Regions from separate parts of the Homo sapiens genome. Here all the other regions are linked to region 5. The links come from fine-mapping of genetic effects on gene expression. A gene starts in region 5. Each other region holds a variant in brackets. All regions are shown on one strand. Distances are from middle to middle. Region 1 holds the start of R3HDM2 (R3H domain containing 2). Region 2 overlaps LOC124902945 (a long non-coding RNA gene). Region 3 has its middle 16 kb from the start of SDR9C7. Region 4 has its middle 5.0 kb from the start of NEMP1. Region 5 holds the start of STAT6 (signal transducer and activator of transcription 6).

Region 1 (6,188 bases), 320 kb after region 5:
GCCCCCCAAAATCAATCTGTGAAAAAAGGATCAAGTGTTCTCTAGAACTGAACATTCTACCATTGTTAGAGAAACCTATTCTTAAAGTTTTTAAGCTCAACTGTCTCTACATGAATTGGTGGGGTTGAGGGTAGGAACTAGCCCATAAAGACAGAACTATAAATATTAACATCTTCAGGCTACTGAAAACTCAAAGTGGAACCAGCCTGCTCAGCTAGGTAGGGTCAGAGAAGTAACGAGTGATATTTGTCTTGGAAGGGACATGAACAAACCTCAAGGGAAGAGCATGAAGTAGGTAAAAATTCTAGCCACAATAAATCTGAGATAAGACTACCAATACCAAAGACTTCCACACTCCATCCTCTTCTCTGCCCTCAGAGTATTTTCATTCAATGGCCCCAAAGCACGAGATGTTTGTCCAAAGAGAAACATCCCCAGAAAAAACATCTCAACATCTCTCAATGAGTACCTTAGAAAACCAGGTTTTCCTAGTGAAAACCCATCCCACCCTTCCAAGGACAACTAATCACGATGAAAAATTCATGGAAAGAGTTCAAGGAAAAAACTCCTCCTTACCTACTCAGTCAATAAATCTGTTGTGCACTTTACTGAACATCAAGTGCTGTGCTAAGTGCTGAGGATACGGAAATTAATAAAACAAAAATGTGGCTGGGCACAGAGGCTCACGCCTACAATCCCAGCACTTTGGGAGGCCGAGGCAGGAGGATCACCAGGTCAGGAGTTCAAGACCAGCCTGACCAACACGGTGAAACACCATCTCTACTAAAAATACAAAAATTAGTTGGACGTGGTGGCGCGTGCCTGTAATCCTAGCTACTCAGGAGGCTGAGGCAGGACAATCACTTGAACCCGGGAGGTGGAGGTTGCAGTGAGCTGACATCGTGCCACTGCACTCCAGCCTGGGCGACAGACAGAGGTTCTGTCTCAAAAAAAATAAATAAATAATAATAAAATAAAATAAATAAAACAAAAATGCCTGCTCTCCTGAAGCTTTTTTTTTTTTGAGACAAAGTCTCAGTCTGTTGCCCAGGCTGGAGTGCAGTGGCACGATCTCAGCTCACTGCAACCTCAGCCTCCCAGGTTCAAGCCACTCTCCTGCCTCAGCCTCCCAAGTAGCTGGGACTACAGGCGTGTACCACCACACCCAGCTAATTTTTGTATTTTTAGTAGAGATGGGGTTTCACCATGTTGGCCAGGCTGGTCTCGAACTTCTAACCTCTGGTGATGCCCCGTCCTTGGCCTCCCAAAGTGCTGGGACTATAGGTGTGAGCCACTGCGCCTGGCCCTGAAGCTTTCTACTAGGGGAGATTAAAATATATAATACGTTATAGGTTGATAAGGGTTAAGGCAGAAAATAAAGCAGAAAAGGGGGATAGAGAGTTATGTAAATGTGTATGCAGGAGGGGCTTTGCCATCCAGATAGCCAAGGGAATATCAGTGTTAAGAGTGACATTTGGGCCAGGCGCAGTGGCTCACACCTGTAATCCCTACACTTTGGGATTACACTTTGGGAGGTGGAGGTGGGTGGATCACTTAGGGTCAGGAGTTGAAGACCAGCCTGGCCAACATATAGTGAAACCCTGTGTGTACTAAAAATACAAAAAAATTAGCCAGGCATGGTGGCAGGCACCTGTAATCCCAGCTACTCAGGGGGCTGAGGCAGGAGAATCGCTTGAACCCAGGAGGTAGAGGTTGCAGTGAGCCGAGATCATGCCACTGCACTCCAGCCTGGGTGACAGAGCGAGACTCCATCTCAAAAAAAAAAAAGAGTGAAATTTGAGTAAAGACCTGAAGGAGATGAGGGGACAGACAGGCTATGCTCTTACACAGCTTTGTAAGAGAAAAGTAACTCAGGAAGAGGAAACAAGAGCATAGACCCTGAGGCAGAAGTGTGCCTAGTGTGCTCAAGGAACAGCCAGAGGCCAGTGTGCATGTTAGGGGAAAAGGGTGCCACAGATCTAGAGCTTTAAAGCTAAGATTGGTTTGGCTGGGCGCGGTGGCTCATGCCTGTAATCCCAGCACTTTGGGAGGCCGAGGTGGGCAGATCACGAGGTCAGGAGATCGAGACCATCCTGGCTAACACAGTGAAACCCGTCTCTACTAAAAATACAAAACATTAGCCGGGTATGGTGGGGGGTGTGGTGGGGGGCGTGGTGGGGGGGCACCTGTAGTCCCAGCTACCCAGGAGGCTGAGGCAGGAGAATGGCATTTACCCAGGAGACAGAGCTTGCAGTGAGCCGAGATTGCACCACTGCGCTCCACCCTGGGTGACATAGCGAGAAAGAACAACAACAACAAAAAGTAACATTGGTTTTTATTTTGAAAGAGAAAGGAAGCCATCTCCTGTCTTAATTTTCCATTAAAAAATATTAGGCATGCTATTATTTTTTTTTTTTTTTTGAGACAGTCTCTCGCTCTGTTGCCTAGGCTGGAGTACAGTGGCACGATCTTGGCTTACTGCAAAATCCGCCTCCTGGGTTCAAATGATTCTCCCACCTCAGCCTGCCAAGAAGCTGAGATTACAGGTGCCTGCCACCACGCCTGGCTACTTTTTGTATTTTTAGTAGAGACGGGGTTCCACCATGTTGGCCAGGCTGGTCTCAAACTCCTGACCTCAGGTGATCCACCTGCCTTCGCCTCCCAAAGTGCTGCGATTACAGCATGAGCCACCGTGCCCGGCCAGTCAGGCATGCTATTTTTATTTGTCAAATTTTTTTAAAACTTTACATTGTGAAGCTCTGCCAAGAGCAATGGCTCACGCCTGTAATCCCAGTGCTTTTGGGAGTCTGAGGCCAGAGGATCACTTGAGGCCAGGAGTTCAAAACCAGCCTGGGCAACATAGCAAGATCCCATCCCTAC[G/GA]AAAAAAAAATTGTGAAGCTCTACTAATCATATAATGGACACAAAGACAAATGGAACTTCAACTCTGAAATTTAACTTGTTAGGAGTTCATCAGGCCTTCAAGAAAAAAGTTATCTTTTCTCTCAACTCTCTGGAGAACAGCAACAGGGTAAGAAAAATACAACTAAAAACTGAACTGAATTAATCTAACCGGCCACTTTTCACCACTATTTAAACTTTTTGTCTTTCCCGGCGCGGTGGCTCAAGCCTACCACTTTGGGAGGCCAAGGCAGGTGGATCACTTGAGCCCAGGAGTTCCAGACCAGCCTGGGCAGCAAGGTGAAACCCGTCTCTACAAAAATCAGCCAGGAGTGGTGGCTCATGCCTGTACTCCCAGCTACTTGGGGGACTGAGGTAGGAGGACGGCTTGAGGCCAGGAGGCAGAGGTTGCATTGAGCCGAAAAGGAACCACTACACTCCATTCTGGGTGACAGACTGAGACCCTGTCTCAAAAAACAAAATACAACCTTTTGTCTTGATACCCCAGCAACAAAAAGGGGGGCGGGGGTGGGGGGGGAATATTGGTGGAACAACAACAAAAAAAAGCATTAGGAAGAAGAGCCACAAATAATTCAACTGCAAATCTATCTAAAAATACAAGAAAATGCTAGGAATTTGTGATATTCCTGAAGTGAAACCTGTCACTTTCCTCCTTCCTTGAGTCTCCACGTGGCTTACGCATATCAGACAGGACTCAGGCTTCTCAATCTTAGTTATCTATTTGAACAACATTATGTACAAGGATATTCATCCAACTGGGATCTGAATTCAAACTTTTCCACTTTTCTTTCTTCCGTTTTAACGCAGTTCTGGGATTGTTATTCGGTCATTTCTCATCATTATCCAATGACAATTCACTCTAAGTCAGTATTCCTGGTAGTTCCGAGACTTAATGGCCACAAATGTTGAAAAATGTTAGCTCTACGGGAAAACGAATCGAAGCGTTTTCAGGGGCTCGAGTAGTTATGAGCTTAGTGTAGGCCCAAGTTTTAAGCTATAGAAACATCTCCCTGTATGTGCCAACTCAAATCCCCGTCCCTGTAAGAAACCTGGACACCAGCATGATTTTAAACACTTCTACACCTCTCCGTCCTATTTTTCCATGCTCCACGCTCGAAGGAAAACCGCCACCCAAGAAACACACGGAGCTAGCCACCCCGAAGCACTGGAAGGGCGCAATAGTTTTTAGGTCACCCCGCAAAGGCCACAGGTGGCGCCACCCCCCTGCCCCCGCACCGCCGCCCTCCGCCCCGCGCCCCCAGCTTCTCTCCAGCAGCGCACACTTGGAGCAGTCCTTCCCGCGGCCATCCGACCCTGACCCATCGTCCCCGGGACCGGCTGCCGGGCGCGAGGAACCCAGGCCGCGGGGCCTCCTCGCGCCCGCCCGTGCGGCCGCCACGCCCCCTCCCCACAGGCCGTCCGGGCCGCCCGCCCCCTCGGCCGGGAGGTGGCCTCACCTCGCACGGGCCTTGGCGGGGAGGGCGCCCACGTCTCCGCCCGCCGCCCGGGCCCACGGCCGCTCGGCTGCGGCTCGGCCCCGACGGCCGGCGGCGGCGCGCTTCTGGGGGCGGGCTTTTCTCGGCCGGGGCTTCCCCGGGGCCGAGGGCTGGGAAGCAGGGGGGACTGGGACGGGGGAGGGGAAAGGGGCTTGGGAAGGAGGGGGGAGAGGGGAAGAAAAGGGGGGAACCAAACCCGGAAAGGGAGAAAAGGGGGGAGGGGAAAATCAGAAGGGGAAGAAAAGCCCAGAGTCCGCCCCCCGCTGCGGCTGCGCGCTACGTCACTACGTCCGGCGTTGTCGTCACCTCGTCCTGCGTTCCGGCCGTCCCTGCTTCCTGGCTTCCCGCGTGCCCCTCAGCAGCCCTGCGGGGCCTACCGCCTGCCGCACGCACTCCCGCCGGCGCGCGCGCACTCGCACTCGCTCGCTCGCCCTCTCCTCCTTCCGCGTTACCTGTGTCAGGACACCAATCCGGAGTCACTGGGAGCCTCGGTCCTCCTTAAACCCTTCAAGTCTGTCAGATAGAATACCCTGGATTTCAATATAATACTAATAGTGATCATTCTAAAGTAATTTCCATTTACAGAGCACTTTCACTTAGGGCAGTAACTCCTGTACCAAAAGAACGTACACTCGGTATTTGTTGCATACGTGGATAACTATAGTTGAGCAGGTAAATGTCCATTTTACGTAAAGATGAAAAAAACCGACCTAGGAGGAACTCAGTCTGTCCTATTAAGATCACATTCTTACCATCATCCCCTCTCTAAGATACAGTTCTCAAAAATCGTCTTAAATGTCCAGCCTCCCCCGTTTTGTCCATTCTAGGCAGAATCAATTTAGTTATTGATTATGTGTGTGTGGATAATTTACTGACCAAACTCCCTCAAAGAAGCAATGTAGTCTTTTGTAGAATTCGACCATTAAATATTTACCTTGTGACAGAAACTGCGGTAGGCAAAAAAAGTCAAATAATTATAGTACAATTTAAGTGCTATAATAGAAAGGTTTAAATGTGCTATGGAAACACAAGGAACAGCAATTCGTTCTTAGCGGTAAAAGAGATTGAGTAAGTTACAGAGAAACTACAGGTGAAACTCCAGCTAATCTTGAGACTATAAATAGTTCACTAGAGAGGTAAGAATGGAGATTCCAGCAAAGTCATAGAGGCATGAAGTTCATCTTTCCTTCAAGGATGAGCAAGTTCCAGGTTGGTTGGCGTTTTTTGTTTGTTTGTTTGTTTGTTTTATTTATTTTGAGATGGGGTCTCGCTTTGTCACCCAGGCAACTAGATTGCAGTGGTGCAATGTCGGTTCACTACAACCTTCACCTCTCAGGTTCAAGTGATTCTCCTGCCTCAGCGTCCGGAGTAGCTGGGACTACAGGCACGCACCATCACACCCGGCTATTTTTTGTATTTTTAGTAGAGACGGGGTTTTGCCATGTTGGCCAGGCTAATCTCGAACTCCTGGCCTCAGGTGATCCACCCGCCTCGGCCTTCCAAAGTTCTGGGATTACAGGTGTGAGCCACCTTGCCCAGCCCTCTCTCCTGGTCATCACTGCCTCCTGCCCCCAAATTCTCTCAACCCTCTAGAGAACAACAACGGGGGAAGAAAAATACAACTGAACTGAACTGATCTAACCTGCCACTTTTCACCACGATTTAAACTTTTTGTCTTGGCCGGGCGCAGTGGCTCACACCTAGCACTTTGGGAGGCCAAGGCAGGTGGATCATTTGAGCTCAGGAGTTCCAGACCAGGCAGTGATGACCAGT
Region 2 (6,188 bases), 130 kb before region 5:
TGGCTTGTCCTTAGGTCTATTTCTGTGACAGGGGTAACCTATTTCTCTCCCCATGATACATCGCCCCTTATGGCATACCCCAAATCCATGAAAACATGCACCTGAGTCTTGGCTTCACAGGCCCTTGGCCAGCCTTGGAGAACCTAGTGGAGCATGGCATCCGCCAGGAAGGTAGACATGTAGGTCATGGGGAGGTAGAGAAGCTTGGTGTCCCAGCCAGCTGTGTAGCAAGTGCAGGGGTGGCAGGCGGTCAGCACATGCTCCATGCAGTCAGTCACCAATGATAGATTTGTATTGCATTTTGACCAAAGGCTCCTAGGTGCTTTTCTGAGGCCTGTTCAGAATGAGAAAACATCCTTAATGTACTAGCACATCCCTCCCCTCCCATTTAGAGCTCTGAATTGGAAGGAGAGTGTCTAAGAATCCCTGGGCCCCTCAATGATATGCCTCAAGTCTAATCCACCCATATTCCCCAGGGAGTGCCCCAACCCTCACTGCAGCAAAACCTGTTCCACACTAAGCCCCCTCTGCCTCTCTTCCTGAGATATCTGGACTGCATAAATTGAAGGTCTCTACTAACAGCCTAAGAACATGAAAATCAGCTGTCTCTAAACCCAGCTGCCCATGAGCCCACAGGTGTCCACCCTCTCTGGCTTTAGTTTCCTCTTCAAAATAACGAGAGGTTCAGATTAGCCAGTGGTTTCAATTATAGGAGCTTCAATTCTTCTTTTAGGTGACCAGTTGACCACACAGCTAAATGGACTAAATGTCCTCACTTTGTTGGGGAGGCAGAGTTTGGAGGACAGATTCTCATACTGTTGGAGGCACTAATGATGGACCCAGACTTCTAGACAAGGATTTCTTTATCTCCCCACTGTCCACAGCTCACTCACGGGATATCAGAAACTTCTCCCCATACGTCTCCTTGACCTCGGGGCTGGCCTAGTCCGACAGCTCCTTGAGGTTCTGTAAATGCCTCTCAGAGCCGGCCATACTGGTCCTGAAGTGACCAGGTTCAATCACAGACACCTTCACTCCAAAGTGGGAGAGCTCCCTCCTGCATGGCAGACATGCAGAAGGGCAAGGACTTAAGAAATTTTGGGAGGCAAAATACAAAAAACAAAGAAACCCAATACAAACCCAGCATGCAACGACAGTGGGAGATGCAAGAAAGCTTGGAGAGTTGGGAAGGGCAGCAGATAGCAGATAAAAGTTATGATGGTGGCCTTGCCTCTCTCTGGGGTTTCCATATTTTACATACCAAAGCTTACTAGCCCTAAGTCCTACCAGTTCAAGAGCAAGGCAGCATCTCAGTGCTATCACCTCCTATGCCCCTCACATCCAATGGATCACCAGAATTCCCACATTCTACCTCCTCTGCAGTCCTCAGTCCCCTCCCTTCTTCTCCTGCCCCAGGAATCTCCCTGGCCTCTGAGCTGGGTGATGGCAGCTGTCCTCTAAGGAGCGTCCCTCTGCCTTCAGTCTGGCTCCCCACACTCACAGCCACTGGGCTCCCTGCAGTAAGTGGGTGTCTAGAAGCCGATTAGACCAAAGAGCTCCCCTGAGCAAATCCCTTTTTTGGGGGTTCCACTGCCAACAGTATGAGGCACAGCTCCTGTCCAGGGCCTCCACGAGCCCATATGCGCCCACCTGCCCAGCCTCCTCCACAGGCCTGGCCCTGTGCTTCACCTCATGAGGACCCCACAGCACAGGCAGGCAGCTGAGGCTCCCCCTAGGCCTGGGCTGAAGACAAAAGTCATTCCCCCATTTCTGTCCAAGGCTGCCAGGTGGGGATCCTCAATCTCCAGCTCAGACCCCATCTCCAGGAGCTTCCCCAATCCAGGAGGCTGCCATGGCCACCAGGGCTGACTGGGTCACAACCCCTTTGAGAACTGGCAACAATGGTTCTGGCTCTCTTGCTCCTCTCTCAGGTGTCAGAGCTTTTAGGTCAGGGCCAAAACCCTGTTGCTGTCCTGGGCTGAGTTTATTGGGCACTCATCCAAGGGCCTAAAAAGTCTGTTGTATGGACTAAGATGCTCACCCCATGTCTCCTAGGCTCCCTGCAACTGCATGTCACAGTGGCTTCATTCTGGGCTCTGGAGCCAAACATGTCAGTTCCAGTCTGCCTCAGACATTTTCTGCCTATGGGACCCCCTCAATAGGGTCAAAGGTGAGTTACAGGAACTGTTTGGTCTGGGGCCCCTCCCTCCCCAGAACATGGAGAAGCTGTTCCCAAGAAGTGGCTGGCTAAATCCATAAGGGCAACAGCACACACAGGATGAGAGAGAGGGATCTCAATAAGGGGCCTCTAAGGCTACAATTACATAAAACTACTGCAAATGGTTCCCACAGAAGAACAGGTGCAGGAGGATGAGGGAGGGCCCTGTCCCAGGCCAATACCAGAGGGAGTCGGAGAAGGCCTCCACGCTGTACTTGGAGATGCAGTAGCCTGCACCAAAAAGTGAAACCCGGCCTGCGATGCTGGAGAGGTTGACCATGCAGCCCCTGGCCTTCCTCATTAGGGCAGCAGGATCAGAGTCACATCAATCATCCCCAACAGGTTCATGTCCAGTTCCATCACAAAGTTGGTCACTTTGTGACCAACAGGTCACAAAGTCCTGTTCCATCAAC[T/C]ACTCATTGCAGCTGGAGGGCAGGCAGATGCCAGAGTTATTCACCAGGCCCCAGAGTCCTGGGATGGCCAGAAGATGAGAGCATCACTCTTGTGTTTGTGCAGGTGGACACAGTTAGGGTGCAAGTTCATTTTCTAGTTCAATGTATTTATTGAGTCAACAAGTGTGCTACATGGAATAAGGGAAAGGAGTGGAGGAGAGGAAACAAGGATGGGGAGGCTTCAGAGTTTCAAGGTTTGCACCCATTTCAAGGTATTGGGGGGTGAGGGGTGGTCCTTCCCATCTCTGCTCCTAGTGCCTGGCACCCAGCATGCAGTAAAGCCAATGCTGTGAAGTGCATGGACAGAACTTGAGAAAACAGAATGAGGGTCCAACAAATATCTCTCCAGGGGAGAGAGACAGAGACAGGAAATAGGAAGACAGGAATGGGCTAAGACAGAGAAACCAAGGGGAAAGGACAGAAGAGAAAAAGAAAAAGGAAAGAATAAGAAAAACACATGAGTAATTACTTTCTGCATCCTGTTTAGGAGAGATACACTTAAATCCTAAGACTAGGGGAAGTTAGAGAGCAGGCCTGCACTGGGCATCAGGGGACAAGCTGTGCTACAACCTGCATCAATGTCAAGGCAATATCTGTCCTGGAAGAAAAGGTCACCTTGTGTACCTGGGAATCCCAAAGCTCACTGTGGACTGAATGGCCAGAGCAGGAGGGGAGGAGGGAAAGAGGTCTCATGCCACACAGGTGTCCAGACTGCACTCTCTGCCCCAGGAAGTACCACCTTTTCCTCCCACCATCTCATAAGGCCACCTCTGCCCTATCCCCATAGGGTCCAGCAAGCTTTGGGGAAGACTCTACAGAAGACATAGGGGAGCAAACTAATAGCATGAAAGATCTGGAGTAGTCAGAGCTACAGAACTACGGACTCCAGGCCAGCAGGGGCAGGGGTGTGAGTGGGTGAGGGCTGGGGGGTACAGGAGACGGAGACTGACCCTAGGAATATTGGAAAAACAATAAGGCCTGCAATGGTGGCCCTTCCCCTACTCAGAAACCTTTCCTGGACTTGAAGGAATGAGGATTCTTTGATTCAATAGTTGTACTTTTCTTGAATAGCACTGCTAAGCCTGTCAACAAACCTTGGTAGAGAATCGCTACTGAGATGTTATTTATGCCAGGAAAAGTGGGTAACAAACTTCGGCATTCAACAATATAGAATCCCTTTAACAAATTATGGCCTCTCCACATGCTGGAATATGGAGACCTTGATTGTTATGTTGGGGAAGAAACTTGATGATGAAAATGCTGACCCCAGAATGTGTAAAGTAGAGGGAAATTAACCCTGGAGGCTGGGATTAGGGGGAATGTTGTTTCACTCTCATCCTCTTCTATGATTTCTCCAATGAGAAATCCTATCTTATCCTCCTATCTATCCAATCTTATCCTCTTCTATAATTTCTTCATGTTTTCCATTTACAATCAGAACAAAGCAATCAATGATCTCCCTTTCCCCAAAAGGAACAGGATTCATCACTCGGTGTTTGATGTGAAGTCCCTTCAGCTCTCCAAGCCCCAGTGTCCTCGTGAATCAAGCGGAGATCATCTTAAAGCCCTCAACAGGGACAAGTGTGAAGGAACCAGTAAGAGAATGCTGAGATCAGAAGCCTGGATCCTGCCCAGCCCCATCCCCGATGGTCTCATGCCAACCGTCAGGACCCAACGTTATCCAGAGACTGGGCTCTAACCACAGCCTGGACTCCTCTAACCCTGGGCCCAGCCACAACCACTCTAGGACTTCTGCTTTGGAAAACAGAAAGCTCAAGCCCCCGAAAATAAAAGTCCTGGAAATGTTCCCAGTTAGCAGACACTAGGTCTCCCCTAGTGACACAGAGAGAAGAGAAACAAACAGGCACTAGGAGGGATTGAGGTGGTCCCTCTGTCCCCCACACACTCCTTCACCCACTGGGCAGCTGCAGCAATGCTCTCTGTCTTGGTGATGTCCATGGTCACCGTCTCCAGCCTGTCTGAAGTCTGGCCCCTCAGCTGCTTGGTCCCCTTCTCTGTCCTACATGCAGCTCCCGCAAGCCTGTGCATTCAGTTGTCTGGCCAGTAGCTTCCTGAAGCGTGAGTCACAGCTCATGATGAACACGTACTTGTCTCTCAGGTGACTCACCACCTGCCTCTCCCAGTACCAGTGCAGAAGGTAGTATAGGCCCAGGAGGACCGCCAGGTAGAGCCACATGGCTTTGCAGAGGACAGACCCAGACGGGCTGGGGTGAAGTGAGAGTCTGGCCTCTGTTCAGACAGGAGGACTTAAGAACACAGAGGGCTGAGGTAGGCAGGGAAGCCCTCAGGCATTTTGGCAGAAAGTCCTCACTTTCCTCTCTGATCACTGTCTTTCTGCACCATTTTTTATCCTGGCTTCATCTCTCTGCTCTTTCAACTGCCTTTGCAGGTGTTCATGCATGCAACTGCAAACCCCAAGCTCTGCCCAGTGAGTAGTTATCACTACTCAGCAATGCTTCCCTAGTCCACCAATGCCTCTCTGCCTTGCTGTGCCTACTCAGGTGTCCACACAGGGGCCCACACACACACACCATGAAACACACCACTCTGATCTACAAACAAGGGTCAGAACTTGTCTCTACATATCTTGTGATATGGTTTGGATATTTGTGCCACCAAAATTGCATGTTGAAATGCGTTCCCCAATATTGGAGGCAGGAGCTGGTGGGAGGTGTTGGGTCATGGTAGTGGATCCCTCATGGCTTGGTGCTGTCCTGGAGACACTGGAATGAGTTGTGATGGGATCTGGTTGTTTAAAAGTGTGGCACCTCCCCAGCTCTCTCTTTCTTGCTCCCACTTGCCATGTGACAAATCAGCTCCCCCTTTGACTTCTGCAGTGATTATAAGCTTCCTGATGCCTCACCAGGAGCCAAGCAGATGCATGCTTGTACAGCCTGCAGAACCATGAGCCAATTAAACCTGTTTTCTTTATAAATTACCCAGTCTCAGGTATTTATTATAGCAACACAAGAACGGCCTAACACACATTGTATACCAACACTCCTGGACCATGGTCTCCCAGAAAACAGACTTTACTGGGAAGCTACACATGGTTTCCAGGCACATTCAGTGGAAATCCTGCTCTGAGCCTGAGTTTCCTCATCCCACCCAGCATCCAGAATCAATCACTCCCCAGAAAAGTAGGGCACGATCAGGCTCTCTAGGATGAGAAGGAGAAGGCAAAAAAGTGAACAAGAGCAAGTCCCCTCCTGCTACAGTAGTTTTCTGGGGCAGAAAGATGTGGAACACCCACAGGGAGAGTCCAACCTCACAGGTAAAGAAAGGGGAAAGAAGGGAATGGAGCCTTGGAACCCACAGGAAGGAAGTACCCAGGGCTGCTGGGAAGGGGAATGGAATGACTTATGCAGGTGTCACAGGGCTCACCTGCTCACCTCCTGATATGCCCTGGGTGCTGGCTCCACTGCCCTCTGCCCTCCCCTGTCAGGGCCCACATCCAGGATCTGGACCCCTCAGACACTGAGAGGCTAAAAACATTG
Region 3 (6,188 bases), 190 kb before region 5:
AACAGATCCATCCTGCGCAGGCATAGTCAGAATTCATGGCATTTCATAGAATATATATACAGAAAATGAAAACATTAGCATGATCTGAGGGTGAGTTTTGGGCCCCCCAATGTCAAAAGGCCACCTGCACAGACCCCGTTGAGGGACAGTAGTCTCAACCAGTTTGAACTGGACAAGAGCTGGCCCAGGTTCCTGAAAAACAACTAAAGTGACTATTACCATGGTGACCTATGAATGCTATCAAATAGTCAGTAAAGGTTAAGATTCAGCATCCAGCAACAGCCTTCAGCTATACTGGGGCCTTCAGGTTCACGGATAAAGGAAGAAAGAATAACAAAAAGCAAGGGACCAAAAGTAAGCAGGGCAGGCAGACCTGATCAAATTGCAAACTAAGCCCTTGGTTTCAGATTGTCACCTGCCAGGTTTTTTGTTTGTTTGTTTTTTGTTTTTGGGACAGGGTCTCACTCTGTTGCCGAGACTGGAATGCAGGGATGTGATCTTGGCTTACTGCAGCCTCAAACTCCTGGGCTCAGGTGATCCTCCCACCTCAGCCTCCTGAGTAGCTGGAACTACAGGTGCATGCCACCACTACACCCAGTTAATTTTTATATTTTTTGTAGAGTAGGGATTTTGCCATGTTGCCCAGGCTGGTCTTCAACTCCTGAGCTCAAGCAATCTGTCTGCCTCAGTCTCCCAAAGTGCTGGTATTACAGGTGTGAGCCACCTGTAATCCCACCTGCGCCTGGCCACCTGCCAAGTATTTTTGAAGGTCGGCTCCAATGACAGCCAGTTCTAACTTCGGTCTGTTGAGAAAGCTAGGAGACGTGTGGCTGGGAACCACCCAAGGATGTGTCGCTATGAAGAGGAAACTAATCTCAGACCCCTAATCAGGGCCCATAATTAGGGCCAAATTATGGGGCCAGCTAGGGCTCACCCATCACCTGTCTCTCAAGAGAAAAGGTGACAGAGCCACATGCAAGGATTTCTCCTTCACTTCAGTAAAAAGAGAAATTCAGATCTTTCCTTACTTGGCAAAATTAAAAAGAAGAGTTGGCATTTCTCTCTTTATACACAATGCCCTCTCATAGTTCACCTAAGTAAAGTCTCAATTCTGCCTTCAAAAATTGTCCACTTGTAGTGCATTTTCATCTCCCAGTTGAAGCTCGTCCTTGACTGTTAAATATGCACACCCAATTTTTTCATTCCTCCCCCCTCATGTTCCATGTCAGAAATTCTAAAAGGAAGTTTTTAAAAAATTTTTTAATTTTTTTTTAAGATGAAGACTTGCTCTGTTGCCCAGGCTGGATGCAGTGATGTAATCATAGCTCACTGCAGCCTTGACCTCCTGGCCTAAAGTGACCCGCCCACCTCAGCCTCCTGAGTAACTAGGACTACAGGTATGTGCCACTCTGCCCAGCTAATTAAAAAAAAAAAAAAATTACTTTTTGTAGAGACAAGGGTCTCACTATGTTGCCCAGGCTGATCTCAAACTCCCGGCCTCAAGTACTACTCCCACCTCAGCCTCCCAAAGCACTAGGTTTACAGGTGTTAATCATCATGCTTGGCTTCAAAGGAACACCTTGTTGTTCTGTTAAAAAGTTTAGCCTAAAGCTCCTCCTTACATATATTAAGTCTGGGATACAGTTTTCTCTGTATAATGAACTGTAACCTAATTGGCTGTGAAAACAGACTGTACCAATCACTGAGTTTCAGTCAATCAAAGGAGGCCAACTGTTCAAACTGTTCAAATAAGGCAAATGCCCACTGAGCTATTACCATTCTGGCTGTTTCTGTACCTCACTTCATTTTCTGTACATCACTTTCCTTTTTCTCTCCGTAACTTTTCTTCCAGGATTGAAGTCTCTCTGAACCTATTTTGGTTCCAGGGTTGCCTGATTCTCAAATTGTTCTTTGCTCAATCAAACTCTGTTCAATGTAATTTGGCTCAGATTTTTCTTCTAACAGCTCCAAGTTTGGCATTAAAATCCTCTGTTTCCATTTGCTCTGGTGTAGAGGCAGTATTTACACTGCTCCTGTATAAGAACATGCCAAACATGCTAGCCAGGCAGGAGCTCAATGATCCCCATGTTCCTCTGAATTCTTCTTTCCTCTCACTTGCGCTTACTATTTCTTTTCTTTTCTTTCTTTTTTTTTTCTTTTGAGACATGGTCTTACCCTCTTGCCCAAGCTAGAGTGCAGTGGCATGATCATGGCTCACTGCAGTCTCAACCTCCTGGGCTCAAGCAATGCTCCCACCTCAGCCTCCCAGGTAGCTGGGACTATAGGTGCTCGCCACTATGACTGGATAACTTTTTATATTTTTTTGTAGAGATGGGGGTCTTGCCATGTTGCCCAGGCTGGTCTGGCACTCCTGGGCTCAAGTGATCTGTCCATGTGCAGGCATGAGCCACTGCACCCAGCTCTCCTCACCTTTTGTTTGAGGTTCACTGGAGACCGGGGAACTTTCTGAGATTCTGAAATTTCTGAGAAAGGCAGGCATGTCCCGCAGGAAAGGAAGAAGCCCCTGGAGGACAGAGGCCCCTGTCTTCACGGGGAACAAATTGGAGGAGAGGCCCCCAAATAAGGCAAGTTAGGAGAGGTTTCAGAAAGTTCTTGGAAACAGAAGCAAGCCACATTACAGCTGCTGGCCAGAAAACCCTGCTGCAAATGCATGTGTACAGAGATGCTCCCCAGGATGAAATAAAGCAATGACAAACAATTAAATAATAGCATTACAGAACTCAAAGAATCTGCTCTGCCAGATGCTTATAGGCTATGTATTATAATCACCCTCTCTGGGCCTCAGTTTCCTCTCATTAAAACTGGAGTAATAACACCTTTCAGGATTGTTATGAAAATTAAGGTGCTGAAACAACAGATGCTGGTAAGGCTGTGGAGAAATCGGAACAATTTTACATTGTTGGTAAGAGTGTAAATTAGTTCAACCATTGTGGAAGACAGTGTAAGACAGTGTGGCGATTCCTCAAGGATCCAGAACCAGAAATAGCATTTGACCCAGCAATCCCATTCCTGGGTATATACCCAAAGGATGATAAATCATTCTACTATAAAGACACATGCACACATATGTTTACTGCACCACTACTTAACAATAGCAAAGACTTGGAACCAACCCAAATGCCCATCAATGATAGACTGGATAAAGAAAATGTGGCACGTATGCGCAATGGAATACTATGCAGCCATAAAAAATGAGATCATGTCCTTACACGTTATACAAAAATTAATTCAAGATGGATTAAAGACTTACATGTTAGACATAAAACCATAAAAACCCTAGAAGAAAACCTAGGCATTACCATTCAGGACAGAGGCATGGGCAAGGACTTCATGTCTAAAACACCAAAAGCAATGGCAACAAAAGCCAAAATTGACAAATGGGATCGAATTAAACTAAAGAGCTTCTGCACAGCAAAAGAAACTACCATCAGAGTGAACGGGCAATCTACAAAATGGGAGAAAATTTTCGCAACCTACTCATCTGACAAAGGGCTAATATCCAGAATCTACAATGAACTCAAACAAATTTACAAGAAAAAAACAAACA[A/T]CCCCATCAAAAAGTGGGTGAAGGATATGAACAGACACTTCTCAAAAGAAGACATTTATGCATCCAAAAGACACATTAAAAAATGCTCATCATCACTGGCCATCAGAGAAATGCAAATCAAAACCACAGTGAGATACCATCTCACACCAGTTAGAATGGCGATCATTAACAAGTCAGGAAACAACAGGTGCTGGAGAGGATGTGGAGAAATAGGAACACTTTTACACTGTTGGTGGGACTGTAAACTAGTTCAACCATTGTGGAAGTCAGTGTGGCGATTCCTCAGGGATCTAGAACTAGAAATACCATTTGAGCCAGCCATCCCATTACTGGGTATATACCCAAAGGATTATAAATCATGCTGCTGTAAAGACACATGCACACTTATATTTATTGCGGCACTATTCACAATAGCAAAGACTTGGAACCAACCCAAATGTCCAACAACGATAGACTGGATTAAGAAAATGTGGCACATATACACCATGGAATACTATGCAGCCATAAAAAATGAAGAGTTCATGTCCTTTGTAGGGACATGGATGAAACTGGAAACCATCATTCTCAGCAAACTACCGCAAGGACAAAAAACCAAACACCACATGTTCTCACTCATAGGTGGGAATTGAACAATGAGAACACATGGACACAGGAAGGGGAACATCACACTTCGGGGACTGTTGTGGGGTGGGGGGAGGGGAGAGGGATAGCATTGGGAGATATACCTAATGCTAGATGGCGAGTTGGTGGGTGCAGCACACCAACATGGCACATGTATACATATGTAACAAGCCTGCACGTTGTGCACGTGTACCCTAAAACTTAAAGTATAATAATAATAAAATTTTAAAAAAATGAGATCATGTCCTTTGCAGGGACATGGATGAAGCTGGAAGCCATCATTATCAGCAAACTAACACAGGAAGAGAAAACCAAACACTGCATGTTCTCACTCATAAGTGGGAGTTGAACAATGAGAACACATGGACACAGGGAGGGGAACATCACACATTGGGGCCTGTCTGAGGGTAAGGGGCTAGGGGAGGGAGAGCATTAGGACAAATACCTAATGTATGCAGGGCTTAAAACCTGGATGATGGGTTAATAGGTACAGCAAACCACCATGGCACATGTATACCTATGTAACAAACCTGCAGGTTCTGCACATGTATCACAGAACTTAAAGTAAAATAAAAAATTAAAAAAAAGAAAATTAAAGTGCTTAGAACAGTGTCTGGCATGTGGTGAGCACTCTGGAAGTGCTTGCTATTGTAGCATGTGGCGAACCGCACTCTGACTCTGCCATTTATTAGCAGTGTAATCTTGTGCAAATTACTTTACCTCTGTGAGCCTCAGTTTCCTCCTCTATAACATAGGAGTAACCTCACAGGACTTGTTGCAGAGATTAAATAAAATTGAATGGATAATATGTGGGAAATTCTAAGCGCAGTGCTTGGACTGAATAAATGTCCAATAAATGCCAGTTATTTTTATTTCTATTATTTTATTGTCACACTTCTCTTATCAGGTCTAGACTTGCACCTCTTCAATCCAGTTCTTCCAATTCATTCCCCAATGGCAGCAAAAGTGGTCTTTTTAAAAAGTAAGCAGTCTCAAAATGAATCTATAGTGACAGAAACACATCAGTGGTTGTCTGGAACCAGGGTGGAGAGGAGGGATGATTAACTGCAGACAGGTACAAGGGAACTTTCTAGGATGAGAAAAATGTTTTATATTTTGACTGGTGGTGGTTGTACAGGTGTAAACATGTGACAAGACTCATCAGATGGTACACTTAGATGGATGCATTTCTTTTTATGCAAACTTTACCTCATTAATGTTGATTAGAAAAAAAGGTAAGCAGCCTCCCTGGTCATCTATTACATTGTTATATTTTCTCTTCTCCATGGCACTTATCAGTATATAAAATTATTTCATTCACTTTTTATATGTCTATTGGCCAACCCCTCCCTCCGTTAGAATGTAAACTCTTTGAGGGCAAGGACTCTGTCTTATACCCCACTATAACTCTAGAATCTGGAACCACATTTAGCACATAGTAGGAGCCTGATAAATTCTTCTTGACAGACTGACTAATGATTAAAGTCCATCAATGGTTCTACCTCCAAATTATATATTGACTTCATCTATTAGCATCATTTCTGCTAACACCATTTCAGCTTAGGGCACTATCATCTCTTGCCTGGATTATGCAATGGCCTCCTTTCTTCCACCATTGCTTCTTCATTTCAGTCTCCACAGAGCCCCCCAGTGATCTTTTAAAAATATAGATCAGATCACATTACTCCCCTACTTTAAAAATGGAGATAAAAATGATTAAGAAGCTGAATAAATGAACAAGAAAAGGCAATTCAAAACTCCAGGAAAATACAAAAGTTATATAAGAAAGGTGATGGTTCTAATATGAAATCAACCAAAATGTAACTCTGGAGCATATATGAATCTCAGCTCATAAGTTCAAAAAATACCTCAGCTATTAATGATGAGGTGGAGAGATGGCCCTCAGACCAAAAAATTAAGTCTTCTATCTTCTAAAGGTTACCACTTTAGTGTCTGCTGTTCCAGTCTACATGCCCTTTATATCTAGCAAATTTCTACT
Region 4 (6,188 bases), 28 kb before region 5:
GAGACCAGCCTGGCCAACACAGCAAAACCCTATCTCTAATAAAAATACAAAAATTAGCCCAGCATGGTGGCAGGTTCCTGTAATCCCAGCTACTTAGGAGTCTGAGACAGAAGAATTGCTTGAGCCCAGGAGGCAGAGGTTGCAGTGAGCCGAGATCATGCCACTTCACTCCAGCCTGGGTGACAGAGCGAGCCTCTCTTGTCTCAAAAAAAAAAAAAAAAAGTCAAAATGGGGCTGAGCTATGGGCAAGAGAAGAGATTTCATTCTCAGAAGGAAAAGTCTAGGCCAACAGTGCTGATATGGTCATCCTGTATTTCACACACACACTCCCTCAGCTGACCTAGGGAAGTCAGCATCAATCATGTTGATACTATGTACCCTTGATAACATGAGATGAAAATGGCATTTTAACTCTGTGGTTTTCCTTCCCAAAACCCATAACACCACTCTAATCTTGAGAAAAACATTAGACAAATTCCAATAGAGGCATCCTACAAAATACCTGACCAGTACTCCTCAAAGCTGTCAAAGTCATCCAAACATCATTATGGGCTTTTTTGTTTTTGTTTTTTGAGACAGAGTTTCACTCTTGTTGAGCAGGCTGGAGTGCAATGGCACAAACTTGGCTCACCGCAACCTCCCCCTCCCAGGTTCAAGCGATTCTCCTGCCTCAGCCTCCCAAGTAGCTGGGATTACAGGTGTGTGCCACCCCGCCCAGCTAATTTCATATTTTTAGTAGAGATGGGGTTTCTCCATGTTGGTCAAGCTGGTCTTGAACTCCCGACCTCAGGTGATTTGCCCGCCTCGGCCTCCCGAAGTGCTGGGATTACAGGCATGAGCCACCATGCCCAGCCCATTATGTTTTTGAGAACTAAACATAATGTGGTGGTCTAGATGGGATCCTGGAACAGAAAAACACATTAGTTTAAAAAAACGAGGCTGGGCACGGTGGCTCATGCCTGTAATCCCAGCACTTTGGGAGGCTGAGGCGGGCGGATCATGAGGTCAGGAGATGGAGACCATCCTGGCTAACATGGTGAAACCCCGTCTCTACTAAAAATAAAAAAAATTAGTCGGGCGTGGTGGCAGGTACCTGTAGTCCCAGCTACTCAGGAGGCTGAGGCAGGAGAGTGGTGTGAACCTGGGAGGCGGAACTTGCAGTGAGCTGAGATCGCTCCACTGCACTCCAGCCTGGGCGACAGAGCAAGACTCCGTCTCAAAAAATAAGAAAACAAAAAAAAACACGGAGGCTGAGCATGGTGGCTCACGCCTGTAATCCCAGCACTTTGGGAGGCCAAGGCGGGCGAATCACGAGATCAGGAGTTCAAGACCAGCCTGGCCACCATAGTGAAACCCCGTCTCTACTAAAAATACAAAAATTAGCTGGGCGTATGGCGGGCACCTGTAAACCCAGCTACTCAGGAGGCTGAGGCAGGAGAATCACTTGAACCTGGGAGGCGGAGGTTGCAGCAGTGAGCCAAGATCAGTGCCACTGCACTCCAGCCCGGTGACAGAGTAAGACTCAGTCTAAACAACAACAACAACAACAAAAACTCAAAGGAAATCTGAATAAACTGTAGACTTTAGTTAATAATAATGTTTCAATACTGTTTCATTAATGGTGCTAAATGTACCATACTAATGTCAGATAATAATTGAGGAAATTGAATGTAGGGTATATAGGAATTCACCATATTATCTTTTCAATTTTTCTGTACATGTAATGTTTCTAAAAATAAAGTTGGCTAGCCTCAGTGGTTCACACCTGTGATCCCAGCACTTTAGGAGACCGGGTCTGAGGATGGCTTGAGCCCAGGAATTCAAGACCAGCCTGGGCAACATAGTAGGACTCTGTCTTTACAAAAATACAAAAATTAGCCAAGTGTGTTGGCACGTGCCTGTAGTCCCAGCTGCTCAGGAGGCTGAGATGGGACGATCACTTGAGTCTGGGAGGTTGAGCCTGCAGTGAGCCATGATCATGCCTCTGCACTCCACCCTGGGTGACAGAGTAAGACCTTGTTGCTAAAAAAATGAATAAATTGGGCAGGTGCAGTGGCTCATGCCTGTAATCCCAATGTCTTGGGAGGCCGAGGCAGGTGGATCACTTGAGCCTAGGAGTTTGAGACCAGCCTGGGCAACATAGTGAAACCCCGTCTCTACAAAGAATACAAAAAAAAAAAAAATTAGCCAGGTGTGGTGGCATGCACCTGTGGTCCCAGCTACTTGGGAGGTTGACGTGGGAGAATCACCTGAGCCTGGGAAGTCAAGACTGCAATGAGCTGTGATTGCACCACTGTGCAGCCTAGGTGACAGAGTGAGACCCTGTCTCAAAATAAATAAATAAAATAAAATAAAGGCTAATATATATGTATAGATATGTATATGTATTTTTTTATGTGTAGGTATATATACACATATATATACACATACTTCATTTTTTTTTATCAGGCCCCATTCTCATCATTCAGAGCTTGCTCTTTGGTTTTCACTAAAGCAAATCCAGGGGAACTAATTTCAGAAGATCACTGACCACTGACTATTAAAATATATAAATGAAGTGTATGGTAATGAGACTGGCTGTCCATAAACACATTACAACTTATCATCCAAATGAGTGCTGTCATTTCAAGATAGTCATTCAAGAAGCTTTTAGCTTTGTTTTAATGAGGACACTGCTCAAAACAACAAGAATCTCCTTCAGAGTCTATAACACACAATGCAATGAATATTCATTATCTGCAGGTGGATTGGATTTATGCAAATAGCCAAAAGAACTCAGGCCAACACTGATGAGTAAATGGGGTGGGAAATCTGGATGGTTAATGTGTTTCAAAATTTTTTGGATTTTTGAAAGATAGTATGGTGCATATACAAAATATAAAGCAACAATCCCAATGCATCAGGACAGCACCCAGTAATCAAACAAATTAATATTTCTGGAATGACACATATGACTTCATACTGTGGTAAGTGAAAGATGGAAAAGTGAAAACTATAAATAACCTTATGTAAGTTTAGGTCAGGTTCTGCCACAAAATAAATTCAGTTCAGATTAGGTTTTATTGTCAAATATGTTATGAAAAAGATTTTGTTTTTGTTTTTGAGACGGAGTTTTGCTTTTATCGCCCAGGCCAGAGTGCAATGGCGTGATCTCAGCTTGCTGCAACTTCTGCTTCCCAGGTTCAAGCGATTCTCATGCCTCCACCTCCCGAGTAGCTGGGATTACAGGCGCCCGCCACCACGCCCAGTTAATTTTTGTTTTCTT[CTGTTT/C]TGTTTTGTTTTGTTTTGTTTTGAGACCGAGTCTCACTCTGTCACCCAGGCTGGAGTGCGATGGCGCGATCTCGGCTCACTGCAACTTCTGCTTCCCAGGTTCAAGCGATTCTCGTGCCTCCACCTCCCGAGTAGCTGGGATTACAGGCATGCGCCACCACGCCCAGGTAATTTTTGTATTTTTAGTAGAGACGGGGTTTCGCTATGTTGGCCGGCTTGTCTTGGACTCCTGACCTCAGGTGATCCACCCACCTCAGCCTCCCAAAGTGCTGAGATTAAGGGCATAAACCACAGTACCCGGTCAAGCTTTTGGTTTTCATAATTTTTTTAAATTTAGGAATTGTGGATAAAGGATTTGCAGGCCACGAATATTTGATGAAGGCTATTCCAGAGTTTTGAGAAGGAACACTCCATTCCACATACTCAGTCACCCAAGCTAGGAGCCTGAGAGTCACCCTAAACCCTCATTCTCTCCTCTCAACCCCTCAGCCAATCAATCAAGTCCTGTCGATCTTATTTTCTATATTTTGAATCTGTTCTTTCCCCCCATGCCAGTGCCTTGCCATCTTTCAACTGAGAGGGTCCTTCAGTATTTTTCAAGCTGACCTTCCTACTGTTTTTGCAGCCATAAATCCTTCCTCCACTCTGCTCCTAAGTGCAGATCTGACCATGCCATGAGTCTTTGTTTCCAGAGTCTTTATGGTTCCAGTAACACCACAGGATGAAGTCCAACATCCTTAGTATGATCTAAAACTCAGAGGCAAAGACACAAATAACTATAATAATGTTATTCAATGTTTGTCACCAATCTGTAATGAAACAATTTCAGAAATTAAGTGTAAGCATTTAGAAAGTTTTATAGGAATTTGACAGAGAAATTTTATATTTATTGAATCTAACAAAATGGTAGTTTATTTTGTTTTTTGAATAATTCATTTTTAGTGCATTCTACAAAAGTAGTGGACAATAATAGATTGGAAATGTTTTAAAAATTGGTCCTTAACCATACTTTGAAAAGCACTGGTCCAAAATATTTTTAATGTAATGTACCTGTACACCTCCCTAGGCTCGTTTCTAACCAGCTCCACCCACCACCCAGCAATAATGAACAACCTTTTATAGTTTCTGAAACATATCACTCTGTTTCATACCTCCACCTCCATGGAAATGCACTTTCTGGCCTCTCTGACTTGACTTCCCTTCCTCCTAGAATTTTTGTTTTTGTTTTTGTTTTTTGTTTTTGAGACTCACTTTTTGCTCTGTGGTGCAGGGATGCAGTGGCGCCATCAAGGCTCACTGCAGCCTTCAACTTCTGGGCTCAAATGTTCCTCCCACCTCAGCCTCCTGAAGTGCTATGATTACAGGTGTGAGCCACCGCCCTGGCCACTCCTGGAAATCTCATACTGACTGCATCATCACCTCCTTTGGATGCCTGTCTAAACCAAGGCCCCTCACAACTCCAAGCAGAACAGATCACTCACCCTCTTATACTTCTGTCATTGTTGTACCCATATTATTGCACTATGTTGTAATTATTCGTTTATAGGTCTATTTCCCCTATTAGTCTGTGAGCTCCTTAAAGGCAGTGGTTAGGATTATCTGTCTTTCAGGAGTGAAACATTTCTTGTAAAATAACTAACTTGAAGGACAACATTCCTTAGATGATAAATTCTGCCATGTTACTGAAAGAGAAAAAAGGGATCATTACTTTATACTTTTCTATTACCAGCCAGGACTTCGGCCTACTACCTTTAGCATCTGAGTGTGAATTAATTTACCAGAATGGTGGACATTTTAGAAGGCCAAGGAGCCAGATTTGTGGGACTCACTGGAAACTTTACAAGGGAAAGAGATATGGAAAACAAATGTCTTCACTTAAACAGTTTTGCCCAGGCTCAGCCCCTTTGGGAGTAAAATCTGTGTCATGTGCCCTTTCAAAGTTGCACAGGCCTGTGAATAGGATCAATTTATTCATTTCAGAGGGTCCACCAGATAACAGGCCTATCCTGGAGAGGTCCTGGATTTCGGCTGAAACAAGCAACTATAATTGGAAATGTGTACAAAGAGCAATGAGGAGGCCACCGAGGGGTGGGAGGAATTAATTCTGCCTGGAGGAGTGGAAGGGGTCCAGGAAGGAGAGGGTGAGCCAAACCTTGCTGAGTGAGTCGGATCTGGCCCAGTGGAGACGTTGGGGGAGGAGTGAGCAGAGCAATCTGCTAGATGAAAATCTACACGTGCGCGTAGGGACGACAGTCTCTGCACTCCTCTTCCGCCCACTTTCCTCCCTTTCCTCGCAATCGTTTCCCCTTTTCTTGGAAAACTAGGACTGAGGATACTGTTTCCCTTCACGGAGGAGACCAGCACAGATAAAAGAATATTAATCCTTTTTATCACGAGATCAGTTCCTCTGGTCTGTCTTTGAGAGCACTGGGGATGGGGAGAGCAGGTGAGTCAGGCACAGAAGTGGTCCTTCTTTGAGTGAGCCAAGGGGACACAGGGGAGAACAGGTCCCATGCAGGAAACAAATGAAAATTTTTGTATTTGTCCCCACTCCCTTTTTGTCACCACTCCCCCCCCCCCACACACACACCTGTCTCTTTATGTTTTTCTATAGTTTCCCATGGTCTCCGTCTTTGTCTTTGCCTCTTTCCCTTTGCTACAGGCTGGAAATTCCTTGTTCTCAACGGAAGGGAGTAGGAGGGGAGTTGGGGGTGGCAGGAGTGGGCGGGAAGAACAGACATCTCGGCAGCTCTGGCTGCGGGCTGCGGGGGCGCTCTGGGCCTCTGGCGGGCCCTGACAAGTCAATGATTTTTTAAATAGGGGCTCATACACAAACCTAGAGAGAGAGAGGAACACAGATATACAAGTGGATATAAAGAAACATATAAATACATAATCTCGGGTACAGAGACACAAAC
Region 5 (6,188 bases):
GGCATCCCTAGACAAACCTCTCAAAATTCTAGGACTCCATGAGATAATTTGAAAACCACAAGGCTCGGCCAGGCGCAGTGGCTCATGCCTGTAATCCCAGCGCTTTGGGAGGCCGAGGCGGGCAGATCACGAGGTCAGGAGATCAAGACCATCCTGGCTAACACAGTGAAACCCCATCTCTACTAAAAATACAAAAACAAAATTAGCAGGGCGTGGTGGCGAGCGCCTGTAGTCCCAGCTACTGGGGAGGCTGAGGTGACAGAATGGCGTGAACCTGGGGGGCGGAGCTTGCAGTGAGCAGAGATCGAGCCACTGCACTCCAGCCTGGGCGACAGAGAGAGACTCTGCCTCAAAATAAATAAATAAATAAATGAAATAAAATAAAAATGAAAACCACAAGGCTAGATGATGAAGAGGATGGGAGAGTAATAACAGCTACTATTTGTTAAGCACTTACTGTGTATGAGGCATTACACTCAGTGTATTATCTCCTTCAGGCCTCACGACACTTTTTAAAATATATAATATCCCATTTTATAGATGAAGAAACTGAGGCTTAAGGAGTTTCTCTACTCTGCCCAAGGCCACTCAGTAAGTGAGTTTGGAAAGCAGGCTTTGAATCTGAGTGGGGATTAACCATCGCACTGTGTTGTTAGGATCCCTTCCAGGGGCAAATCTGATCATCCTAAGAAGTGGGGGAAGGTGGGAGGAGACTTGAAGGAGGAGAGGTGGAAAAGGAAAGTAGAGAGAACTAAGGAAGAGGATGGAAGAGACTGGAAAAAAGGCGGGTTTAGTAAGCTAGGAGGAAAGAGCCTAGAAGAGAGAGGAAGCTGGAGGGCTAGAAGGCAAAGATGAGAGACGAAAACAGGTAGAAAGGAGAGGAGGGGACAGGGAAGTAGAAGAGGGGGTTGCATCCCCATTTCCAGGTTCAGGGAGGACTGGGTAACCAGTGGTTTCCCAGGGGCCTCTCAGTTCACGTTTCTCATAATATCCCTCTCCCAGAGATGAGGGAGAGGATGGGATGACAACTCCCCAGGTCTCCCCAAACCCAGTAACCCCAAGTCCTCCTGTTGCACGTTCAGCCTCTCACCTCTCCCAGGCCTCTCAGAGGGATGGAAAATGGAGAGGTCCCTTCTCTGGACGTTTCTGCTCCAAGACCTTCATGCCCCTCTTTCCTCCAGTGCCCACTTACCCCAGCTCTTTTCTCCTCAAGGCAGAATCCTTACCCCTCCTGCTCAGGTTCCTCCAATAGGCCTTTCTCTAGCCCAAGAGAGAAAGGTCCTCTGGAGTGAGTGGGCACCGCTTTCCTCTGCATCCCCTTGCAGAGTGACCAGCCTCCTGGCATGGCCCTGGCTAGAAATATCCAACCCCTCTTCTTCCCCAGCCATCAGGAGGACACATTTCTCCCCACCCCAACCCATAACAAGGCTGGGTCGATTGGCTTGACCAGGACAGGGGCACCTTTTGTCTTCAGCCCCTTGAAGGGGAAGGGAGGGAGGAGCCACGGCGTGAGGGGCGGGGCCAGTGTTACCTCCCAAACTCAGAAGGGAAGCGCAAGGTCTGGGATCCTCGTCCGCCCGCTTGGTGGCCTAAACTCGCTTATCTCAACCCCTATCTGCCCGAGTCCTCTGATTGTGGGACCACAGGATCGAAAGTTAAAACAGCTTCTCTGAGTTGCCCAATGCGTGAATGTGGCGGTGGGGGCAGGCGGGGAGGTGGAGCCAGTTCAGCACGAGGAGGGTTAACTCGGCGCCGCCGCTGGGAAATCTCAGCGTCTACAGCAGCCAAGCGTGGAGCAGTTTTGAGGGGGAAATTCCCCCTCGTCTGGGCCACCATGAGGTCTACATCTGGGGCTTGCTCACGCCCCAGCCACACCCTTGAACAGGAACCTTTAGTGGAGGGCAGGATAGGGGTTTAACAAGGATCCACTGCCCTCTGGCATCAACCTTCCAGGGAGGGGCGGCCACTTCCCCCGACTCAGGGCAGAGGGGCACTCCTTCACCTCCTTTCCCTGACTTTCCATGGCCCTGGGGGTGCAGGGGTGAGGCTGTGAAAACGTGACCCATGGGGGAGGGGAGTACTGAGGCCTGGACCCTCCCAGATTCCTCCAGGAGTTCGAAACTGCTAAAACCCAGTGCCACCAGCCACCAACACTAGCTGAAACCATCTCTTGGGGACCATCCACCCAGCCAGGGGAGGATCCCGAGAGCTCCCCCCACGAATCCACCCCCATGCACTCATAGAGGCCCCCGCACCCACCTCGGAGGCAACCCCTCACCTCGGCAACCCCTCTGCTGTCTTCTCCCTTTCTCAGCGGGCACTTCCAGGCCCCATAGGTCTGTAGCTCTGTCCAGCGAGTTCAAGGCTGGCCCTGCTAGCACCTCCCCCCTTCCACCACCACCACCAAAAAGAAAAATAAGATAAAGCACACACATACATACACACACACACACACACACACACACACACTCCTCTCCCGTCCTCCCTCTTCAGTGTAAGCAGTGGCTGCCCCAGCCCGCTGTTTCCGGCTTCTCCTTCTACCCAGGTCCCTCCCTGGAGCTCTGACGACACAGAGAAGAGAAAGTGGGCTGGAGGAGGAAGAGGAAGAAAGTGGGGTGAATATGTGTGCCTCCTGTGCCGAGTGGGGGAACACGTGGGGGATCAGGACTGGGGTCCAGGCCTTGGAGCCAGGCTTGGGGGGAGGCTGACCCCCACTTACTCTGTCCCCCTCAAAAGCATCAGCTTTTCTCCAGAAAGTCACCCAATATCAAACAGAGATTTGCCACCCCTAACTGCCTGGCTCCCAAACTCAAACTCTGCCAAGGGCTGGGGTTTGGACCCACAAGGGACTGGGCTCCCCAGGGCCTCAGGAAAAGTAAATCCCTCTGGACTCTGCGCTCCCTCCAGTGGAGGACCCTAAAAAGCCGCCAGGGAGCTCGATGCCAGCCAACTCCTAGGTCCCCCTCCCTTCCGGCAGGGAACGCCTTAGAGGTCGGTCTCGTGACCACTGACGGGAGGGAGTGGGGGAGGGGAACCCTCAGCTCAGAATTCTGGAAGACTCTAGGAGTCCCTTGGACTGAAGCTGGTCTTTGCTCTCTCCTCACAGGGCACCCCTCCTGAGACTGTGGTGGGAACCAGCACAAGCCGGAGCTGCTGCCTGCAGATTCACAAGGGGCAAGTTTGAATACGAATCTGCTGTGTTCCTATCTGCCAAGTTCCTATATGTTTCTGGGGTAAACACTGAGACACGCCAAGAAACAAACACACACATGCACAACTTCCCTGACCACAAGACTACACACACACACACACACACACACACACACACGTGCAGGCAGGCTCACAAACAGAGCCCATTGCAATCACAACACCACACACACACACACACACACACACACACACACACACACACAGTCTTGCTCAACTTCTGAGTCATCAACATAACTAGTGGAGGGTTCTGCAGTTTTTGCTGGGGGAGGAGCTGGAGGAGACCAAGGGATCCAGAGAGGCCTTTACTCCCGGACACCTGAGAGCCCCGGTGTGTGGAAGAGGTGGTGTCTGAGGGGCGGTGGGAGGAAGTTTCTACTCCCCTCCTCCCTCCCATAGCAGGGGCTGGGCTGAGGGGCCAAAGCTAGGCCTATGCTGCCCCCTGGTGCCTGAATTGATTTCCAGAACCAGCTCCTCCTCCTCCATCCCTTGCTACCCCGCAGGTCTGTACATGAGTGCACGTGTGTGGACCCAGCCAGGCAGCAGAGGGTTTGAACACAGCAAAATATAGCAGTTAAAAGACTGGACTGTGGATACAGGCTGCTTGGGTTCAAATCCTGCTAATGCTGCTAACCACACAACCCTGAGCAATTTACTCTGTGATTCATTCTCGTCATCTGTAAAATGGAGCAAATAAGTCTTAACCCATAATGTGAGAATAAAATGCAGTAAAACATCTGAAGGCTTAGAACAATGCCTGACACACAGTAACTGTCAGGCACTATTTTTATGGTTCATAATAAACCAGGTATGAGGAAAGGAGAAGGGTCTCCATCCTACATAGAAGTCCCCAGATTTGGGGGTCATGTTACTGCCAAAAGGATATTGAGGGTGTATGTGCGTATGTGTTTGCTGTGTCTGCAGGACAGTGAATGGAAGAGAAGGGAGAGCAGGGGTGGAGGTGGCAGGCAGGGACTCTGTCCATTGGCTTGTCCAACAAGCCATGCTAGGATCAAGGTGTGTGCACATACGTGTTCACGGCACACGTGCTTTGTATGTGCTCCCGAGTGCCCACTCTGCCTGCAGACATCCACAGACAGTAGGTGAAGCCAGGTTTCACCATCTAAGGGTGTCAGAGCTACAAGTCCCCAAAGACTTGGAGAGGAGGAGGGAAAAGAGTAAATGTGATCTCTGACTTTGGCTCCTTTTAGGGGGTAGGAAGGCGAGGAGCAAGTACTGGTAGAAAAATAGTATATATTACTCCCTCTGTAACTGACTATACCAATGGGAACACTGTGATGTAAGGGGAAAAAACAGAATTTAGAGGCAAATCTGGCTTGGGTATGACTCCATTTAGGAGGTTCACAATCAGGTGTCAATCCCTCAAATGAGAATAATAGTTATACCTACTTCAACAGAGTCTAGGCTAGGGTAAAGTGCCTAGAGTATGAAATTTAAGGAGATACTCATCTTCAGATTGTACAATTGCAGGGTCTGTCAGACCTTCATTAATGACATCTGCACCTGCATGACTGTGAGGGTGACTGTATCACCCTCCCCTGGACCTTGACATCCCATTGAGTGGTGGTAAAGATTGCACAAGAGAGGCTCACGCCTGTAATCCCAGCACTTTGGGAGGCTGAGGCAGGCAGATCACAAGGTCAGGAGATTGAGACCATCCTGGCCAACATGGTGAAACCCCGTCTCTACTAAAAATACAAAAAATTAGTCGGGCGTGGTGGTGCGCGCCTGTAGTCCCAGCTACTCAGGAGGCTGAGGCAGGGAAATCACTTGAATCTGGAAGGCAGAGATTATAGTGAGCCGAGATCAAGCCACTGCACTCCAGCCTGGTGACAGAACAAGACTCCGTCACACACACACACACACACACACACACACACACACACACACACACGATTGCACAAGATAAAGCGTAAGGAAAAAATAACTTTATGTCTATGTACTGCTGGTTACAACCCAATAGTGAGTCACAAAATCGATTTGGTGAGTGTATCAGTTTGCTAGGGCTGCTGTAACAAAGTACTACATATTGCATGACTTAAACAACAGAAATCTCTCAAGATGCTGGAGGCTAGAAGTCCAAGATCAAGGTTAACCTGAGCAGGATTGATTGATTCCTTCTCAGGGATGTGAAGGAAGGCTCTATTCCAGGCCTCCCTCCTTGGCCATTTTCACGTTCACACACTGTTCTCTTTGTATGCAAGTCAGTCTCCAAGTTTCCCCTTTTTTCAAGGATACCAGTCATATTGCATTAGGCCCCATCCTAATGGCCTCATTTTAACTTAATTACCTCTGTAAAGACCCTATAAGGGGGTCCTTCAAAATAAGGTCACGTCCTGAAGTACTTGAGATTAGGACTTCAAGAGAATTTTTGAGGAACACAACTCAGCCCATAACAGCATCTTGATCAAGCACAATGGCTCACACCTGTAATCCCAATACTCTGGGAGGCTGAGGCAGGAGGATTGCTGGAGGCCAGGAGTTCGAGACCAGCCTGGGCAACATAGCAAGATCCCATCTCTACAAAAAAAATTTAAAACAAAATTAAAAACAAAACATAAAAAAAAACAGTGTCTTGACCTTCACTCTTTGAAACTGAAGTAAAGGCCAGGCGCAGAGGCTCATGCCTGTAATCCTAGCACTTTGGGAGGCCGAGGTGTGCGGATCATCTGAGGTTAGGAGTTCAAGACCAGCCTGGCCAACATGGTGAAGCCCCGTCTCTACTAAAAAATACAAAAAATTATCTGGGCACAGTGGCATGTGCCTGCAATCCCAGCTACCTGGGAAGCTGAAGCAGGAAAATCACTGGAATCCGGGAGGCAGAGGCTGCAGTGAGCTGAGATTACACCCCTGCACTCCAGCCTGGGCAACAGAGTGAGACTCCATCTCAAAAAATAAAAAATAAAGTGAATAAAATTAAAAAATAAAACTGAAGTAGAATAGAACAGTACAGAAAATAT

The links.
Region 1: its variant is fine-mapped to the expression of STAT6 in whole blood (INTERVAL, PIP 0.96).
Region 2: its variant is fine-mapped to the expression of STAT6 in whole blood (INTERVAL, PIP 0.92).
Region 3: its variant is fine-mapped to the expression of STAT6 in whole blood (TOPMed, PIP above 0.99).
Region 4: its variant is fine-mapped to the expression of STAT6 in whole blood (INTERVAL, PIP above 0.99).

Annotation. Positions count from the first base shown.
Region 1 is chr12:57,426,344-57,432,531 of GRCh38, forward strand. R3HDM2 (R3H domain containing 2) reads right to left here and starts at 4,700. Exons shown (of 24, transcript NM_001394031.1): 1 at 4,377-4,700. R3HDM2-DT (R3HDM2 divergent transcript) reads left to right here and starts at 4,773. Exons shown (of 2, transcript NR_185976.1): 1 at 4,773-5,087. RefSeq lists an enhancer at 3,842-3,951 and a silencer at 4,132-4,601. The variant G/GA (reference allele first, on the strand shown) is at 2,881.
Region 2 is chr12:56,981,094-56,987,281 of GRCh38, forward strand. It overlaps LOC124902945 (a long non-coding RNA gene), which reads right to left. Exons shown (of 4, transcript XR_007063333.1): 3 at 102-334. It also overlaps the pseudogene LOC390332. Among named protein-coding and RNA genes, the nearest start is that of ACKR5, 10 kb to the right of the region's middle. The variant T/C (reference allele first, on the strand shown) is at 2,632.
Region 3 is chr12:56,915,136-56,921,323 of GRCh38, forward strand. No RefSeq gene overlaps it. Among named protein-coding and RNA genes, the nearest start is that of SDR9C7, 16 kb to the right of the region's middle. The variant A/T (reference allele first, on the strand shown) is at 3,569.
Region 4 is chr12:57,080,689-57,086,876 of GRCh38, forward strand. It overlaps a transcript of NEMP1 not described here. Among named protein-coding and RNA genes, the nearest start is that of NEMP1, 5.0 kb to the left of the region's middle. The variant CTGTTT/C (reference allele first, on the strand shown) is at 3,266.
Region 5 is chr12:57,108,851-57,115,038 of GRCh38, forward strand. It overlaps STAT6 (signal transducer and activator of transcription 6), which reads right to left and starts at 2,512. Exons shown (of 22, transcript NM_003153.5): 1 at 2,279-2,512. It overlaps LOC124902946 (a long non-coding RNA gene), which reads left to right and starts at 1,872. Exons shown (of 2, transcript XR_007063334.1): 1 at 1,872-2,991; 2 at 3,107-4,029. RefSeq lists enhancers at 1,638-2,585, 2,586-3,531 and a silencer at 3,571-3,730.